Linked DNA regions of Homo sapiens. The protein of the gene in region 1 interacts with the protein of each later gene in a pairwise test. Each region holds a gene or a part of one and is shown on either strand. Other genes may lie near its edges. The genes, in order: SIGLECL1 and C3orf52.

Evidence for each region.
Region 2: the proteins of SIGLECL1 (region 1) and C3orf52 interact in binary tests that used the Homo sapiens proteins (3 or more experiments, as listed by UniProt).

Annotation. Positions count from the first base shown.
Region 1 is NC_000019.10:51,246,136-51,255,970, forward strand, and holds the start of SIGLECL1 (SIGLEC family-like protein 1), read left to right. Parts: upstream 1-4,944; 5' UTR 4,945-5,410; intron 5,411-9,793; exon of another isoform or gene 9,794-9,835.
Region 2 is NC_000003.12:112,095,319-112,105,020, forward strand, and holds part of C3orf52 (TPA-induced transmembrane protein), read left to right. Parts: intron 1-7,519; coding exon 7,520-7,647; intron 7,648-9,702. UniProt on the Homo sapiens protein: Has a role in LIPH-mediated synthesis of 2-acyl lysophosphatidic acid (LPA). LPA is a bioactive lipid mediator involved in different biological processes, and necessary to promote hair formation and growth.

The DNA.
Region 1 (9,835 bases):
CTCCCCCAAGGCAGGAATTTGTAGCTCACAGCTTCTTGGGTTTTTGGTGTTGATTGGCTGGAGACTGGGGAAACTACACCATGAATAAGTGGCTTTTGTTCTCTTTCCCAGGCCACATTAACAGGAACTTGCAACCATCTGGTGGTCTGCTTGTATCCTGTAGGACTGTTTATCTTGCAAGAGTTAGGTGCTGACTCACGAGAGTGAAAACCAAAGAATCTGCTTCGAAAGGGATCCATGGGGCTTTGCGCAAGGATACAAGTGAGTATGGCCTCCTAACCTTACTTATCCTGCCTCACAACCTCAACGATATTCATATTCTGGCATTTGGGGCTGGATAATTCTTTGGTGGTGGTGGTTAGGGGAGGGTGTGGCAGGTCAGGTCTCCCTAACCGCTGAACAGGCAGGCCTCCATAACAACTGTCTCAGCACTGATTGAGTGGTTAAGTTAAATATTAAAAGCTGACAGAGCCAGTGCCCTCATACAAAGGCTGGAATGTAACAAAAGCCCACCAAGAATTTTGCCCAGGCCTTTTCTGGGCCTTGAGCATAACAAGATAATGAAGGAATTCTTAACAGGACCCGTTTAGGATTAAACAAGTTTTATTGGGGGGTCTGAAGAAACTCCTCTAAGCCTCCACAAACAAGTTTATTGGGGGTCTGAAGGAACTCCCCAAACCTCCATGATTTAGCAGGAGACAAGATAAGGGTAATCACCCCAGCACCTGGACCCATTTAGTTTAAATAAATTTACTGAGGCTACAGAGGAAGATCTTCAGGACTGACATCTTAGTTACAGATTGGAAGAAGTTAATCGCTTACGTCCAGATGAATGCACTCTTACATGTAGACAAATAGCTTAGAAGGTATATGAGCTCTGGAAAACTTTGTAATTTTGAGTTGGTCTGGCAATATTTTCCAGATCTTCTCCCTGTGCCCAGTTACAGAAATAAACTCCCTTCTCTCCCAGTTCACCTGCATCTTGTCATTGGGCTAAGAGAATAAGCAGCCTGACCCTTGGTTTGGTCCAGGAACAAGGGTGCATGGTCAGATGTTGAGCAGCGTCTCTAGGTTGTACACACAAGATGTCAGTAGCTCCCCTAGTCCAGTTTTGACAACCAAAAAAGGACTCCAGATATTGTCAGGTGTCTATCAGGGTGCAAAAAAGCACCAAATTGAGAAACACTGAACTAGAGCCTTCCTCCTCTGTATTCACATAGATACTTGAACAAAATGAACTTTCTCTAGTTCTTCAAGTTCACTACGAAAACCACTATGTTGCCCAATTTCTTTTTTTTTTTGAGACAGAGTCTGGATCCATCACTCAGGCTGGAGTGCACTGGTGTGATCTTGGCTCACTGCAACCTCCACCTCCTGGGTTCAAGCAATTCTCCTGTCTCAGCCTCCCAAGTAGCTGGGACTACAGGTGCCTGCCACCACGTCCAGCTAATTTTTGTATTTTTAGTAGAGACGGGGTTTCACCTTGTTAATCAGGCGGTCTCGAACTCCTGACCTCAGGTGATCCACCCGCCTCAGCCTCCCAAAGTGTTGGGATTACAGGCGTGAGCCACCGTGTCCGGCCGTTGCCCAATTTCAAAACAATTTAGTGCATTTGAAGAAGTTTATCGCAAAGCAAAAGTACACCCTGAGAGGCAGACGGAGGGAGAGATAGCCCCTAGTGTCTCAAGGGTCTCAAGACCCCCAGTAAAACTTGTTTAATCCTGAACGGGTCCTGTTAAGAATTCCTTTGTTATCACATTTATGAAGACGGTCTTGAGAAATCCTGAGGTTCTAATTTCTTTGTTTTCCAAACTTTTCCTGCATGCCTACTACATGCTACACCAATACAGGAGTTAAGAAGGAATTACTTAGGCCCAGAGCAAGGGCATGGGAGTCCTTGGTAAGGCTTTTCTTTTTAATGAAAAGCAGCCCCAAATCAGTTTCTAACAAAGAGCAGCCTGCAACCTGGGAGCTTGCATGAGTGAATGACGGCAGGAACTAAGGAATGGACATTTTCAAGATGGCCGCTCCATCTTCCCTTCTCTGTCACGTGCTGTAAGGAGCAGACAAGGTGGCACTGATCAACTGGAAAGTCCATTTGCATAAGAAGATTAGGGTGGGGTTACCAGCCTTCCTTGTGTGCTATTTAAACATTATACCCGATCAAACCAATCTATGAGCCTTATGTGAATCAGACACCACCTCCTCAAATGGGACTATAAAATTTGCAGCATTCACCACCAGATGGTCTTTTTTTCCGTTCCAAGACCCCTTCCTCTTTAGAGGAAGCAGTTTCTCTTTCTCTTCTCTTCTACCCATTAAACCTCCACTCCTAAAATCCTCGTGTGTTTCTGTGTCCTAAATTGTCCTGGCATGTGCCAGCGGAACCCCATGTTTATACCCCAAGTAACCTAGCTGCTTCAGCTCCTCCAAGAACATCAAAAGGAAGAAGATACAGTCCCTGGCTCATATGAAAATATAAACTTAGACACATTAAAATTTTAAAGAATTTATTTGAGCTGACATTCATGAATCCAGAAGTGCCAAACCACCTAGTGGGCACACAAGGAAAACTTTTATAAGGTATTCCTGGAATCAAAACAAAGAAAATAGTTTCATTTGGTTAAAGGGGAACGGTAGCCTTAAAGTTTGTAATTAGAGGTCAACTTGCAGTTTCTGATTGGTAAAGTCTCTACTTAGAGGTTAGTAGGCAGTTTCGATTGGTTAAGCCTAAGTTTCATTTTTCTAGGATATGACCATTCACTTTGAGTTAGGTTTGAATTTGCTTACTTGGAAACAAAGGCCTTGGAGCCATCTCAGCCTAATGGCTTCCCAGTTAGTTATTTTGACAATTGGGAGAGCTCAAGTTCATGGGGTAATGTTTGGGAAAGGGACAGAAATAGGTAACTTACTGAAACACAGTATGATAAGGTTCCTATAAAGATGGCAAAGGATATAAATTATGGGGATAATTATGGCCTAGGGTCTGGGGACCCAAGGGCAAGAGCTTTCAGGGATGGGAAAGAAGTTAGAAAAGGCTTCTCAGAGGAAGCCCCTTTCTAACTGCACCTTGAAGGGAAAGCAAGAGCCAGCAAGCAGAGAAGCGAGGAAAAGCAGTTTAGGTACTGATAATATCAATTACAAAGCAAGGAGGTAGAAGAGGGGCTGGCAGATGTTTAGGTAATAGCAGTCAGTCTGCTACAGCTAGGGTAAAGGGAACAAAGTCAGGTCCCCTCTCGGGAAGTCTATCTGGGGCCTGCTCTGCAAGCTGTAAGGGCCATGGAGTAAGGCCCTGGAGGGTGAACATCATCCTTCAGTCTGTCACATTAAAAAAAAAAAATCTGCACATAAATAAGGCAAGATTTTATCCAAAACAATTATTCCAATAAAGGGAGAAGAATCTTTGCAGCAGTGGAAGGGGAACTGCTGCAACAGGGAGGTGGAGACTGTTGTAATAGGGAGTGGAGGTCTCCCATGTACCATAAAACAAAACCAAAAAGTGAGCTTCTATTCTAGTGGCACAGTCAAACCATAAACAAAAATACCATTAGCAAATGATATTTAGCACAAAGTGTTTTTGTTACAGGAAAGGGGTTCTGATCCAGACCCCAAGAGAGGATTCTTGTATCTCTTGCAAGAAAGAATTCAGGGCTATTCCATAGAGTAACGTGGAAGCAAGTTTATTAAGAAAGTAAAAGAATAAAAGAATGATTACTTCATAGAGCAGCCCCGAGGGCTGCTGGTTGCCCATTTTTATGGTTATTTCTTGATGACATGCTAAAGAAAGGGTGAATTATTCATGCCTCCCCTTTTTAGACCATATAGTGTAACTTCCTGACGTTGCCATGGCATTTGTGAACCGTCATGGTGCTGGTAGGAGTGTAGCAGTGAGGATTACCAGAGGTCACTCTCATTGTCATCTTGGTTTTGGTGGGATTTGGCTGGCTTCTTTTTTTTTTTTTTCCTTTTGAGTCAGAGTCTCACTCTGTTGCCCAGGCTGGAGTGCAGTGGTGCAATCTCGGCTCACTGCAACTTCCACCTCGCGGATTCAAGCGATTCTCCTGCCTCAACCTCCCAAGTAGCTGGGGTTACAGGTGCCTGCCACCACGCCCAGCTAATTTTTGTATTTTTAGTAGACAGGGTTTCGCCATGTTGGCAGGCTGGTCTCAAACTCCTGACCTCAGGTAATCCGCCCGCCTCAGCCTCCCAAAGTGCTGGGATTACAGGCGTGAGTCACCGAGCCCAGCCTTGGCTGGTTTCTTTACTGCAACCTGTTTTATCAGCAAGGTCTTTATGACCTGTATCTTGTGCTGACCGCCTATATCATCCTGTAACTTAGAATGCCTTAGCCCTCTGGGAATGCAGCCCAGCAGGTCTCAGCCTCATTTTACCCAGCTCCTATTCAAGACGGAGTTGCTCTGGCTCAAATGCCTCTGTCATTTTGAAAGTGTAATGGGTAAGAAAGTGCGTGACGGATAAAGTGTGAGAAAAAATAAACAGGGTTAAACAAGAGGAACGGAGTCCTCAGGGTTGGAGAGGAGTGTGGTTTCATCAGCACGGGCTGGAAAGGCCTTGCTGGGAAGAAAATTGGCCCACAAACTACCCTGGCACCGCCCCCAGCTGCGGATTGGCTCAAGCCCTCAAGATCCAATTGGGCACAAAGGTTGGAGGAGGGAGTTGCAGTTGCAGTTCCTGATTGACTCTGGCAGCCGTGCATCAGCTCCCAGGGGCACACGCCTGTGGGCACAATGCTTCTGCTTCATTGATTGGCTGTAGAAAAAGCTCATGCAGCCTCTGATTGGCTATAAAATAAGCCCATGCAGCCTCTGATTGGCTGCAACATAAGCCCATGCAGCCTCTCATTGGTTGTAAAATAAGCACATGCAGCCTCTGATTGGCTGTGTAAAGTAAGCCCATGCAGCCGCTGATTGGCTGCGGGTGGATGCACTCACCTAAGGATGCGAGCTAGCAGGTCTTGCAGCGGCTATCACGCCCCTCACGCCGCTATCTCTGTGCAGCCGACTGAGGATCCCTAGTCGCATAAGGCTGTGCCTGGCCTGTTGGCGTCCCTGGCAGTTGTTGGGTTCTGGCGGTTGTTGGGTCCCTGGCAGTTGTTGGCGGTTGTTGGGTTCCTTCATTGAAACTGCACTAACTGGGCTTCCAGTCAGCGTCAGTCAGCGGATCCTTGGGCCGTGGGGCAGCCGCAGGTCGGTTAGGCCACCAGGGCGGCTCTCGTGCCAGTGAGGCCCCTGAGAGCCCTTTGGTCAGACAGAGGCTAAATCTGAACAGTCAGGCGGTGAGATTAAGCATAGTCAGGGAGTTCGCCAGGAGCCAGCGTTCCTCAGCCTCCACCACGTCAGTCACCTGGTCAGCCAGAGGGCAGCTGGGGCGACATCCATCTACCAAGAAGGTAAGCAAGCGGCCCGTGGGTTCACAATCAGGTCAGTGCCCTTATGAGTCAACGGTTAGTCCCTTTGAAAATCAGTTCATGAGAAAATCCACTCCCTTCAGAACCTGCCCTGTTCATTGGTTAGTTAGGCTCCCGCTAAGTCGGTCTCTTGGTAAGTTACACCCCTGCAAGGCACCCAGTCATTACTCACACAGTTATCCCATGTGTGTCTATCAGTTTCATTGTTAGTTATCCTGGCTTTCCCTAGAAAATCGTTTTCCTCACCATAAATAGGTCAGTCATTAGTAAGTCAGCCCTTCCCTTAGAAAGCCGAACACCTTTGCATCACTCACACCCTGCTAAGGAAATACACAGATGGAAGTGTGCTGAGAACAGAGAATATCCTGAGCCCTTTGGAACAAGAGACAGAAGGAAAATTGAGAGACATGATGGTGAAGGAAAATTGAGAGACATGGTGGTCAAGGAAAATAGGCTGGGCGCAGTGGCTCACGTCTGTAATCCCAGCACTTTGGGAGGCTGAGGCCGGGGATCACTTGAGGTCAGGAGTTCAAGACCAGCCTGGCCAACATGGTGAAACCCCGTCTCTTCCAAAAATACAAAAATTAGATGGGCATCGTGGCCCGTGCCTGTAGTCCCAGCTACTCGGGAGGCTGAGGCAGGAGAATCACTTGAACCCCGTAGGCAGAGGTTGCAGTGAGCCAAGATCGTGCCACTGCACTCCAGCCTGGGCAACACAGCGAGACTCTGTCTCAAAAAAAAAAAAAGAAAAGAAAAGAAAAAGAAAATATAATGGGTGCATGACGAGTCATCACATGTATGCTCTAAAACTGATGGAGAGAAGAAAGAAGAAATCAGAATTTTGTACTTAAATGGATCATTACATCTCCAGCAGTAAAACCCACTCATGTTACACATGAGGAAATAAGAAGAGGGAAAATACTTGACCACAGTTATTCAGTGCTTTACTGGCAAATCCTGGCCCAGGACCTAGACAAGGCTCATTCCGACCATCTAACATGGGCTTTTAAACAGAAGAAAGGGGAAGGAAAAAAAAATTGACAATGCAAAAAGAAAGTGGATATGTGGCGTGAATGAGAGAGGCATTTAACGACCTGGAAACTTGGGCGATATCTTTTTTATGTGAGAAGGAAAAAGGGCAATCAGTCTGGAGGCTAAGGGTTGGGAGCACAGACCACTCAGAGAGGTCTGTTAAAACATGCCGAAATATGGAATAGGAAAGGACAGGGCTGGTTCCAGAACTCTGGGAAGGGATTAGGGGTGGTCAAGAGTGGTCCCAGGCTGAGTGTGTTGGTTCACGGCTGCAATCCCAGCACTTTGGGAGGCTGAGGTGAGAAGACTGCTTGAGCCCAGGAGTTCGAGACCAGCCTGGGTAACATAGTGAGACTCTGTCTCTACAAAAAAAATTTTTTCATTAGCTGGACCTGGTGGCTTGTGCTTATAGTCCCAGCTACTCTGGAGGCTGAGGTGGGAGGATCACTTGAGCCTGGAAAGTCGAGGCTGCAGTGAGCCATGTTCATGCCACTGCACTCCAGACCCTGTGTTAAAAAAAAACAAAAAAAAAGTGGTTCCAAGTTAAATGCTGATAGGAGCTAAGCAGGGAACCTAATACATAGTAACTAACATTTTTTGATTGCTTACCAAATGTGAGGTTCTGTTCTACTGACTCATTTAATCTTAACAACAACTCTAAGATGGGTGCTATTATTATCCATGTTTTTAAAATGAGCAAGTAGGCCTAGAGAGAGGTGAAGCTACTTGCACACTATAAAACAGCTAACCTTCATATCTAGGCAGTTTGACTTGAATTTAAAATTTAAAAAAAAGAGAGAGAGAGAAGCTGGTTGTTTGAATTTTTTGTGAAGTGCTCTGATTATTAAATGTTATCCCATTTTAAAAGTTAGTTTTAAAAAGTAAGCATTTGTAGGCCAAACAAAATTCATTTATGATTGTTTTTAGTCTCTGAAGCAGGCTGACAGTGAGGGAAGTGACTTACCCAGAATCACCCAGGAAGTAGCGACAAAGATTAGGTCTTCTGACTTCTGGTCCACTTCCAGGAAAAATCTAAGTATACTGTGTGTCACATCAGGGCTAGCTGATTTATTCTTATATTTTATTCATGAGGAAGTGAATTTGGAGAGGAGAATGAACTTCACCATGCTTATACAGCAGTTTTTAAGGCAAAATAGAATCATGAAAAAGACACCACAGTTGTAGTCAAAGGTTGAGTCTGAAATCTATGAACGTAACGGCTGCATGTCTTGGGGCCAGTCATAGTACTTTTGTGGATCTCTGCCTTCCTTTTGGAAGTGTTGATAATGAGATGTACCTCACAGAGTTGTTGAGACTAAGATAAAAGATAAAATTTCTACGTCTCTAGAGTTGTAAATGGCAACCATAGTTTCTCATTAGATGTTAACCAAAAAAGTAGTTAACAGTCATGGCATGATTCAGTCATTCCCAATTGATTCACAGCAGGGCACAGTGGCTCATGCCTGTAATCCTAGCACTTTGGGAGGCTGAGGCGGGAGAATTGCTTAAGCCCAGGAGTTCAAAACCAGCCTGGGCAATATAGCAAGACTCGACTCTCTCTCTACAGAAAATATTTTTTTTAAATGAATTGGGTCTAGTAGTGTGCCCTTAAAGTCCCAGCTACTCGAGAGACTGATGTGGGAGGACTACTTGAGCTCAGGAGTTCGAGGCTGTAGATAGCTGTGATTGTACCACTGCACACCAGCCAGGGTGACAGGGTGAGACTCCATCTCTTTAAAAAAAAAAAAAAAAGGATTGATTCACAGTATCCAAATAGTAGAAACAACCCAAATGCCATCAACTGATGAATGGATAAACAAAATGTGGTCTATCCATACAATGGAATATTATTCAACGATAACAATGAAAGGAGTACTGATATCTGGTACAACATGAATTAGCCTTGAAAGCATGCTAAATGAAAGAAGCCAGACACAAAAGACCACATATTATATCATTTCATTTATATACAATGTCCAGAATAGGCAAATTTATAATTACGGAAAATAGATTAGTGGTTGCCTACAACTAGGGGGTGGAGTTGGGGTTTGGGGAAACGGGGAGTAAATGTTAATAGATATTGGTGTTTTTAGGGAGGTGATGAAAGTGCTCTGGAATTAGGTAATGGTGATGTCTGCATATCTTTATGAATATACTAAAACTCCTAAATTGTGTGCACTTTAAAATGGTGAATTTATGGTATATGAATTATAGCTCAATAAAAATAAAAAAATTAATTATAAAAAGGTTAGCTACCAGTAGACCCATGGCTAAATAAAAACCTGAAAATTTTAGGGAAAACTAGATACTCACATGGAAATTGGACACTTAGTTTATACCAAATACAAAAATAAACTCAAAATGGGTTAAAGACTTAAATATAGCCAGGCGCAGTGGCTCACGCCTGTAATCCCAGCACTTTGGGAGGCCAGGGAGGGTGGATCACTTGATGCCAGGAGTTTGAGACCAGTCTGGCCAACATGGTGAAACCCTGTCTCTACTAAAAATACAAAAGTTAGCCAGGCATGGTGGAGCACGCCTGTAATCCCAGCTACTCAGGAGGCTGAGGCACAAGAATCGCTTGCACCCAGGAGATGGAGGTTGCAGTGAGCCAAGATCATGCCACTGCACTCCAGCCTGGGCAACAGAGTGGGGACCCTGTCTCAAGAAAAAAAAAAAAAAAGACTTAAATATAAGAACTGAGATTGTAAAACTACTAAAAGAAAACATCGGAGAAAACTTCTGTATATTTATATGTAATACACAATAAAAATTATTGGTTTGGGAAATAGTTATTTGGATATTTCTGCAAAAACACAGGAAACAAAAGCAAAAATTGACATGCAAGATTGCAGCAAAGTAGTTTCTGAACAGCAAAGGAAACAATCAACAGAGTGAAGAGACAACCTACAGAATGGGAGAAAATATTTGCAAAGCATCCATCTAATAAGGGGCTAATATCCAAAATACATAAGGAACTCAAACAACTCAATAGCAAAAAAATCAAATAACCCAATTAAAAAATGGGCAAGGACCTGAATAGGCATTTCATAAAAGAAGACATACCAAAATGGCCAACAAGTATATAAAAAAAATGCCTGACATCACTAATCATCAGAGAAATGCAAATTCAAACCACAGATATCACCTTATACCTATTAGATGGGTATATCAAGAAGGCAAAAGATAGCAAGTGTTGATGAGGATGTGGGGAAAAGTAAACCTTGTACACTGTTGGTGGAAATGTAAATTGGTATAACCACTATGGAAAATAGTATAGAGTATCCTTTAAAAATTAAAAATAGAACTACCATATGATTCAGGAATCCCACTTCTAGGCATGTATTTGACAGAAATGAACTCAGTATCTTGAAG
Region 2 (9,702 bases), on another chromosome or scaffold:
GAGTAGCACAATCTTGTCCTGACATAACTAGTTGGTGCTATCCTAGAAGTTGATATTTGGATCCTGTTGGCATCTGGGGCCTATCATAAAGGATGATTCAAGAGATCTAGATGGTTTAATATTCAGGATTCTAAAGCGCAAGACCCAGGATCTGTCTTCCATTCTCAAAAAGTCATCTAACCTCTTCACCTCACAAAGAGCAGTCTGCAAGAGGAAGGTATTTCACTTCCTTCCACAGTTTTTCTGGAGATGTAAAAGGTTATGGGATAATATTCAGGGAAGAATTTTTTTAACACTTGTAGTGCAAACTTTATTTTTAATTTAACTGTAAATTTGTGTTCGAACATGTCAATGCTGTAAGAGAGATTTTTTCAAACTACTTTTTAAATCAAGGAAATACTTGTATTTTACTTGGCATCTCAGCTCTTAGGTATTTGATCCTGTGGGGAGAGTCATGTTAGACGTGGGGGTGGGGGGAGATACAGTAGGTTAAAAGGGGTGGGGCAGGGGCTCCCTTCTGTGACAGTCCCAGCCTCACCTAGAGCAGTTCCGTAGGCATTTTTTGGGGATGATCTTCAATAATCAGCCACTTCCTAATTGCCAAGCCCATTAATATGAATCAGATATTTGTGGAACTTTCAAGTACTGCATGGGAAATGTTGTCTGGGGATAAAAACACTGTTGGGAGAGTCAAGGGCTGTGCCTGTGGCTGTCTGGATTTACTGGGTGACTAAGGTTCCTCAGGAACTATATTTGCCATTCATTGCCTGCTTACCCTTCTCTAGACCCCTTAATCTCCTGTCTCAAGGCTCTGTAGTCTTCAGACTGAAGCTTGGAGGCGGAAGTGTTAACTTTTGTTCTTCAGTAGGCAGGTCTTTGCAAAACTACCCAGAAAGGCTGAGGAAGCTGAGAGGCTAAAGAAAAACTGACAAATCCAGTTACTCAGAAAGAAACATTTAACAGGGTTTTAGGAACAGAAGCCATGCGTTGGGCAGCAGTGAGAGGAGATGGTGCATTCCTGCACCATTACCCCAAAGGCCCAGGGCTTAAATACCACAGAAAAAGGGTATGCATGCTTCAGAAGGGATGTGTTTTATAATTGCATAAGGGCAAGATTTATGGCATGTAGATAACGTTAAGGTTGTTTAGACCTGAGGGTGAGATTTATGGTAAGTATGTGCTCTTATACATGCAACAGTAGATGAAATAGAAATCTTAGAGGCATTTCCAGAGCTGGGATTAATCAGAAGTTAATACAGTGAAATAATAACTAAGACGGAATTTCTTTAGCCTTCAAAACTGTGCAGTTGGGGTGGACATAAAATGGGACAGTGAAAGCATCTCAGAACAGAAAGTTGGGGAGGGGACACCTGGGTACCCAGGGCAGGGTGTCCAGTGGGGAGTTATATTTTTTCACTCGAATTAAGAATTGTCAGCATGTGGTGATAATAAAAGCAGACCAACTTGTAGTAGGTTTTATTATTGCTGCTCATTCTCTACAGACTGTGCAGCCTTCATTGCCTGTACATGGGTTGGGCTTGCCCACTACTCTTCCCTTGTATGCCATTGAAGAATGACAAATTCAGGATCATGGCTTAGCTTAAAGCACTGAGTAGGGGCTTTGTATGTGCTAGGGAAAAGAGGCTACCTGTCCACCAGACTCACAATCGACATGGAAATTTTTTTAATGTCCATTTTTATGAGTGGAACCCAGGGAATTCTGTTATTTGAGACTCTTTAGGGAAAAGGTATTAATGGATTCTTTCCTTCCTCATAAGGAATTATAAATTTCTTGATTTGAAAGGTACAGAAACAAAAGCCTTCATCTTTTTCTCAAAGTCATTTTCTTTCTGGATAATTTGGAGGATCAGTTGAGTGTTCTCAAGGGTTCTCCTTTCTTCAATAATTCACCCTAGTCATGGAGAGGTGAGACCCTGAATAACACTTTACTAATGAAGTTTTGGTTGGGGCAAAATATTTTAAATATTTCAAAAACAAAACTGTGACAAGTAGGTGGATGCTTAGAAACATGATTTAAATTGATAACATCCTGGAGACCCTCATGTGATATCCCCCAACATTATACCCCAGATTCTTGCCTGACCCTAATCTCTTAATTTATACACCTTTTATGAGTAGGAACGCTGTGGTACTGAGATATAAGCAACGACTTCCTAAGTGACGTTGTGTTGAGTGGATTTGTTTGCCTTTCAGTTGTGAATAAGAGCTACATTTTATGATGTCATGTGGTTCTGGCAGACTGACAGTTTTCACAGGGTAATGCTCCCTGGTGTAGGGTGACTCATGGGAAAATCCTAGGCAGACAGCATTAACAAGCTATAAGCTGCCAAGGTCCTTTGGGGCAGGAACATGAGAGCAGTGCTAGACCCAGTACCTTGAAATTTCTTTCCATTTTCACCTGTTTATCTTTTCTTCAAATCGCTGATGTTTCTCTACCAAGATGGACACCCTTACCTGTGGTCTCCATATAATATCTTTCAGCTTCCTCTGACCCAGAGATCTTCAGATATCTCCTCCTCTCTCTAAGCATCCTCAGGTTCTTCTTAATTTATGCCTAGTGTTCCATTATTGGAATGCTAATCATGTAGAAGTTATTTATATCTTACTGCTCAAGGTCATCACCAAAGTCTGAATGCAAAAATTCGAAAAGTTCAACCTCAGGTATAAATGGGTTAACTCTTCAAATGCACTAGCATCCTCTCTCCTTCAAAGCAATCTTCCATCAGGATTCTTGCTACTTCATTTAGATATGTGTTTTTCTCTCCCTTCTTTCACTGGCACACTTCCAGAAAGAAAGGTCTGCATTTGAATCTTGCCTCCTGCAGACTCCCAAACCTCTTGTATCTATTGGTTCCCAATTTTTCTTCCCAAGATTACTAGCAATTGTCTGATCGTGGAAGCCAACATTTCTCTGTCTCCTGCCTTATTGTCAGCTTTTAGCTCTGCCAACTTCATTATACTCTTCTGAGTCTATAGAACTCCTGGACTTTAGGTTGATTTTGCTATTTTTGCTCTTGGCATCTGCATTGTGGGTTCATGAGGCTTCTCTTCAGCTTCGTGACTTTTCACATTCTTCATTCTTTTTCTTGGAGAGCTCATTCACTCCCAGGACAGCAGCCATGCCTCCAAGAAGGTGACTCCTAGATCTACATCTGTACAATTTTCCTGAGTTTTGGAAGTACTCTTGGCTAGAGATATTTATCTAAAAATAACTGTCATCATCTCAATTATTATACATGTGAAACTACCATTTGTTTGTATGCTATTTTAGTCTGCTTGGGCTACTATAACAGAATATCATAAACTAGGTAGCTTATACATAACAGAAATTTATTGCTTACAGTTCTGGAGGCTGGGAACTCCAAGATCAAAGTGTCAGCACACATTTGCTGTCTGGTGAGGGCACACTTTTTATTTCGTAGATCATGCCTTCTAGCTATATCTTCTATGGTATAAGGGGAAAGGCAGCTTTCTGGGCCTCTTTTATAAGGGCACTAATACCATTCAAAAGTGCTCTCCCCTCATGATCTAATCACCTCCCAAAGGCCCCACCCTCTAAGACCATCTGATATTGTTTGGATTTGTGTCCCTGCCCAAATCTCATGTTGAATGATAAGAGGGGCCTGGTGGGAGGTGATTGGATCATGGGGGTAGATTTCCCCTTTGCTATTCTCATGATAGTGTGTGAATTCTCATGAGATCTGATGGTTTAAAAGTGTGTGGCTCTTTGTTGTTTGCTCTTTCTCTCTCTCTCCTGCTCCCCCATGGTAAGACATGCTTGTTTCCCCTGAGCCTTCTGCTATAATTGTAAGTTTCCTGAGGGCTCCCATCCTTGCTTCCTGTTAAGCCCGCAGAACTGTAAGACAATTAAACCTCTTTTCTTCATAAATTGCCCAGTCTCAGGTAGTTCTTTATAGCAGTGTGAGAATGGACTAATACACGCTCACATTGGTGGTTAGATTTCAACATATGCATTTTTCGGGGAGACACAAACATTCAGACCATAACATATCCTTCATCCCAATTTGTTCATCTTTTCCCCATTCACTCACCCTTTATATAAGACCAAGTTTATTTTAGTTCTGCTACTATCCAATTGTGTAACTTTAGGCAAACTTGTCAAGCCTCTGGGCCTGTTTTCCCATTTATAAAATGTAAAGGATTTCGGAATCTGAGTCTATAAATATACCTTGACCCTAATACATGCTAATTCATTGACCTGAACAAATTATGCATTTTCTCTAAGCCTCAGTGTCTTCATTTAAAAATGAAAACAACAATATTTAACTCATTGGGTTAATGTGAGGATTATGTGAGGAAAATATATTCATAAGGTGCATAGTAGAATGTTTGCACGTCATACTTAATACAGTAGCTATTATTCTTCCTGTTCCTGGGCTTGATATCTTGGAAACCTTTTTGATTTCTTCTTTCTCATATCTAGATAATGGCCAAATCTTACCAGTTATTCCTTGGTAGTGTCTTGATAGCAACTTTCCCACTTACTACAAGGCACCATGCAGGATACTTTATGCATGTTGGTTTTCATCTTTACTATCACCTACATTGTAGGTGTTGATATTTCTGTTGGAGAAGTAGCTTCAGAGATTTAAGTGACTTGCTCAAGGTCACCTGGCTAACAAATAGCCAACAGGAGTTCAGACTGAGTCTGGCTGCCTTTAAAGCCAGCTCTGTTTCTACTATCCTGGGCTTTCTCATTAATTTTTTCTTTTTGTTCCTTCTGCTGTCAGTCAAATCAGTCTGTTCCAAACTTGTGCCTGTTGGCCTCTCTGCCTCATCTCTCCTCGTTTCATTTATCCCATCCATGACCACCCGATTAACCTCCATTAAACACCAGCCTCTACTTTCTTCGTGGGCGATGTTTAACAACACTCCATTACCCCTTGAAGGTATCTGGCGTTTAAGGGCTCTCTCTCTAGCTTAATTTCTTATATTCTAGCCAAAGAACTGTTTTCATGTTCCTTCAACATACAACACATGTTTTTGTGATTTTTAAAAATATGTTTTTTCTACACGAATAAGTATAGCCCAGATTATCTCATTAGTGACATAAAAACTCTCCTGACTGAGTAAGCCTGTCGTTGTTACTATTGTTATTATTTTGACACACACAACTATTTAGATAGGTCTTGGTACAGATTCATGATTTGAATGATACACATTAAATATGTGTCAGAGCTATTATGGGAGGCCTGTTTTCACACTTGGCATCTCTTCTCAGTGTCCTTGAGTTTAGCAGTTATTTGAACCTTGTATCTATCCTCTTGGCATCCCCTATTGTTTTCTGAGGCATTGATATCTATTATGGAAATCTACATGGTGGGTATAGAGCTCAAAGATACCCATTGAAATATTATTTATAGAAGTAGAAAGCTAAAAATGATAAATGTCATATTTAAGAAAATAGGTGAGCCTATTATGAACATTATGAAGCCATTGAAATAATCTTTGCAAGGAATTTTAAGCACATGGGAAATGGCTTTTGATATGTTTACAACAGAACAATCAGGATAAGTAAGCAATAATGGCAGCAAACAACAAAAAGCAGGATATAAATTACCTATTTGTTAGGACCTTAAATATATAATATCAAGTATAGGAGGAAAAAACCCTCTTGATTGCAAGATTATTCGTATTTTTTTCTTTGCTTTGTTACAATTTCCTGCACTTTGCAAAATTTTTTGCTATGAAGGCGTAACTTTTTTTTTAAATCATACAACATAATGTCATGACTTATAACAATTAAGGACGCAGGGATAATTCCCTACGTTTGGGGGTCCCCAAGATTACTCCTAGATTCAACAATTTGCTAGGAGGATACACAGGACTCAGCATGCAGTCCTACTGATCACTATGATCTATTACAGCAAAAGGATACATTACATCAAATGATTAATTACAGCAAAATCCAGAGAAAACCAGGAGCAAGCTTTCAAGTGTCCTCTCTCAGTGGAGTTGCACCAGACTTGTTTAATTCCTCCAGCGATAGGCTGTGACAACACATGTGAGATCTCATCTACTAGGGAAGCTTATTGGAGATTCAGTACCCGGGGTTTTCACTGGGGCTTGGTCATATACGTAGCCTCTGCCTACTATGCACTAAAAATCCAGACTCCCAGAAGGAAAGGAGATGTTAGCCACATTGTACAAACAGTTGAGGCACAGTGAGCCCCTCTCATCAGGGGAAAATCCAGGTTCTCAGACACCAGCCAGGACCAATTTTGAGGAGGCCTTTCTTATGCTAGCAATCTCAGGCCTGCTATATTAACTCTTTTCTGCACATTCCTTGCTCGTAATGCCTCGTATTTCCAGATGTCATCACAGAATAAGTAACCGGAATACCAGGAATCTTCCTCCTTTTTACCTGTCCTTCCATCTCAAACACTGAATTTATTCCACTATGGTCTTAAAGTCTATGGCAATATAAGCACCTGGTTCCTCCCACCTACGCCTTTCTCAGGGCCAGAGAGGTAGTCTCCTGTGTGGGACCAGCTGGTGAGGCTGTTGTGGAGCCAGGGGAGCATAATTAGCACAGTAGTGCTAGCTTCTGGCGCCTGGCTCCTCACTTTGTGTGATTTTCCTTTAGTTCCAACTACTTAAAAATCAATTAGATGGCAGTCATTAAACACAAGCAGCAATACATAACTAATTGTCCCAGGAATGTAATTCCTGCACACCCTGGGGCTCTGAATATAGTTTAGCTTCCCTTCTGCAAGCAGAGCATGTCAACATACCTGTCCTGTGAGACATAGTCTAGAGTGATGACTTCATGCTCATCCTCTGTCTTCCTGGGGAGACTTCAAGACATGGACTCGCATGCTCATTTTCTAGTCACCTCTGTTGTTTGAGTCGATGATGTCACTTCTTCATGGTGGTCTTTGCCAGCACAGAATTGGGAGGTGAGTCAATGCAGTTACTTGCTCCCACTTCCTGTCCTTCATCACTCATTGTTTTAGGCAAACTCGTCAACCCTCTGGGTCTGTTTTCCCATTTATAAAATGTAAATGATTTCGGAATCTGAGTCTATAAATATACCTTGACCCTAATACATGCTAATTCATTGACCTGAACAATTCCTGCACACCCTGGGGCTCTGAGTGTAGTTTAGCCACCCCCACCGTCTCCCAGTACCTGCCTTGACACCTGTGTACCTAGCTAAGCTGCAGGTTTAGTCTAATAAGGAAGTTCATATTCTTCCTACTCCCTTGGGCCCTTTCCCCAGTCTGTATTCAGTGGAATCTGAGACCCCTTTGCCATAAAACAAACTTTTTATTTTGATAGAGGCAAACCCCTGTATTTTACTCAATTTTGCTGAGTGGAGAAAGCATTTCTGCTTACACTTGCTTGCTGTGTTCAGCCTTTACCCTTGATGCTCATAGTTATGTTTAAGTATGGCAGTCAATGGAATAAATAAGTTTATTATTATATGCAGGTGTTTACTTTTGTTTTTCATTTCCACCTCCCCTACTTTCTTTAGTAACTTATGTTGATGAAGATGAAAATGAAATACTTGAATTATCATCAAACAAAACATTCTTCATCATGCTGAAGATTCCAGAGGAGTGTGTTGCTGAAGAGGAATTGCCTCACCTGCTCACCGAAAGGGTAATTCCATCTTATATATTGCCTAAGGAGTTCTTGACATTAGAATATGAATTTTGCTAGAATAATTGGCATAGAGCTATAGAGTAAGTAGCTTCAATTTTGGATTCTTTGTCTGGATTTTAGCAGAAAATGATGCTTATAAATATATTTTATGACCAAATACCACATGTTCTCACTTACAAGTGGGAGCTAAATGATGAGAACACATGGACACGAAGAGAGGAACAGACACTGGGGCCTACTTAAGGGCGGAGGGTGGGAAGAGGGAGAGGAGCAGGAAAAAAAGTAACTATTGGGTACTAGGCTTAGTACCTGGGTGACAAAATAATCTGTACAACAAACCGCCATGACACGAGTTTACCTATAGAAGAAACATGCACATGTATTCTCCTGAGCCTAAAATAAAACTTTGTTAAAAAAATAAGTAAATATCTTTACTGTAGTGCAAAGCCAGAGGGAAGATTCCTGGCCTCCAGCTGCATAAATGCTGGAGGACACTGTTCTTTTTACTCCCTTAGGTCCTACATTTAATTCAACCTATAGTATTCATTGAGGGTCTGTGATGTGCTAGACAGCATGCCAAGTGCCAGGGCCACATTGTCTGTGCCTTCAGGGGTCTCACAGTCCAAGTACAGGAAGTGACTAAAAAGATCGTTTTATAATAGTGTGGTATGTTCTAGTGTGTTGTACAGTGGCAAAGGAGGGGCATCTGAGCTACCTCAGGTGAAGATGAAGGCATGAAAGGCCTGTTAAGTGAAGTGATGCTCAGGATGAGTTTTGAAATGAGGTAGGAATGTTCTAAATAAAAAAGCATGGGACATTAAAGGATCTGCAAAGTAGTGTACTGTGGCCTTCCCATGCTTTGTGGTGACAGCTGGCAGAGATAAGGCTAAAAAGGAAGGCAGGCGTCAGGTCATGAAGGCTTTCCCACTCTTCAATAAGGCACCAAAATATTTTAATCAGCAGATTGACACAGTTAGATTTTTCCTTTTAGCCTTTCTGTGTTTTGGTGGAGAAAGCCAGGAGGAAGAGATCAGTTAGAAGGTGTTACAATAGTCCAGGTGAGAAATGAGGGAGACTTGAACTAGGGCAGTGTCGGGAAAATAAGGAAGATTTGCGTGAGATTTAAGAGGTATTCTCACTCAATAAGAGTCCATGACTGATTGGGTGGTGGTGAGGAGAGCATGACTCCAAGCTCCAGTTGAGTGATTGGGCAGATGGATGGCGGTGTCAGTCATGGGATGAGAAACCCAGGAGAATGAACCCTCTGTGGAAGATGGAAGCTCTGCAGCCAGACTAGGACCGTTGGGTGGGGCATCCTGATCATCCTGTCAAAGACAAGGTGGTTCACAGCCAGACCCAGAAATTTTGATAAGAAAATCTAGGCAAGAGCAGGCTGCCCTCCATTAAATTCTTCTCTGCCATTGCTAGGTTGAATGGAGTGAGTGCTGTTTATCTAACTTCCATTCGATTTGATTCCTACAAAAGCTCCTGAAGAGGCGATTCCATCCAGGTCACATCAGAATCAGTTTCTGGGTACCCACGCATGAGATTTCATTGCTTCTTTTATCACAGGAGTTGGTATCCTGTGATGATTACTCCAGATTTCTCTTTCTCCTTCTCTTCATTTATATCTTTAAATTTTTTTTAGATTGTTTAAATTTATTTATTTATTTTTATTTTTTATTTCCGTAGGTTTTGGGGGACCAGGTGGTATTTGGTTACATGAATAAGTTCTTTGGTGGTGATTTCTGAGATTTTGGTGCACCCATTACCCGAGCAGTGTACACTGTGCCCAATTTGTAGTCTTTTATCCCTCACCCCCACCACCTTTTCCATCAAGTCCTTGAAGTCTCTTCATTTATGTCTTATCTTCACCTCCTTTTCTCCTTTCCTTCCACCTGCTTCCTGGGGCAAGTTGCTGAGTGAGACGCTTCTTGCTACTTTCCTCTTGGCTGCTTTTTTAATGGAGAGGTTTTTGCATTTGCTGAGCAGAAATAAGATGAGTCAGCATCCACATGTGTCACCTGTTGCATAGTAGACTGTCTATTTCAA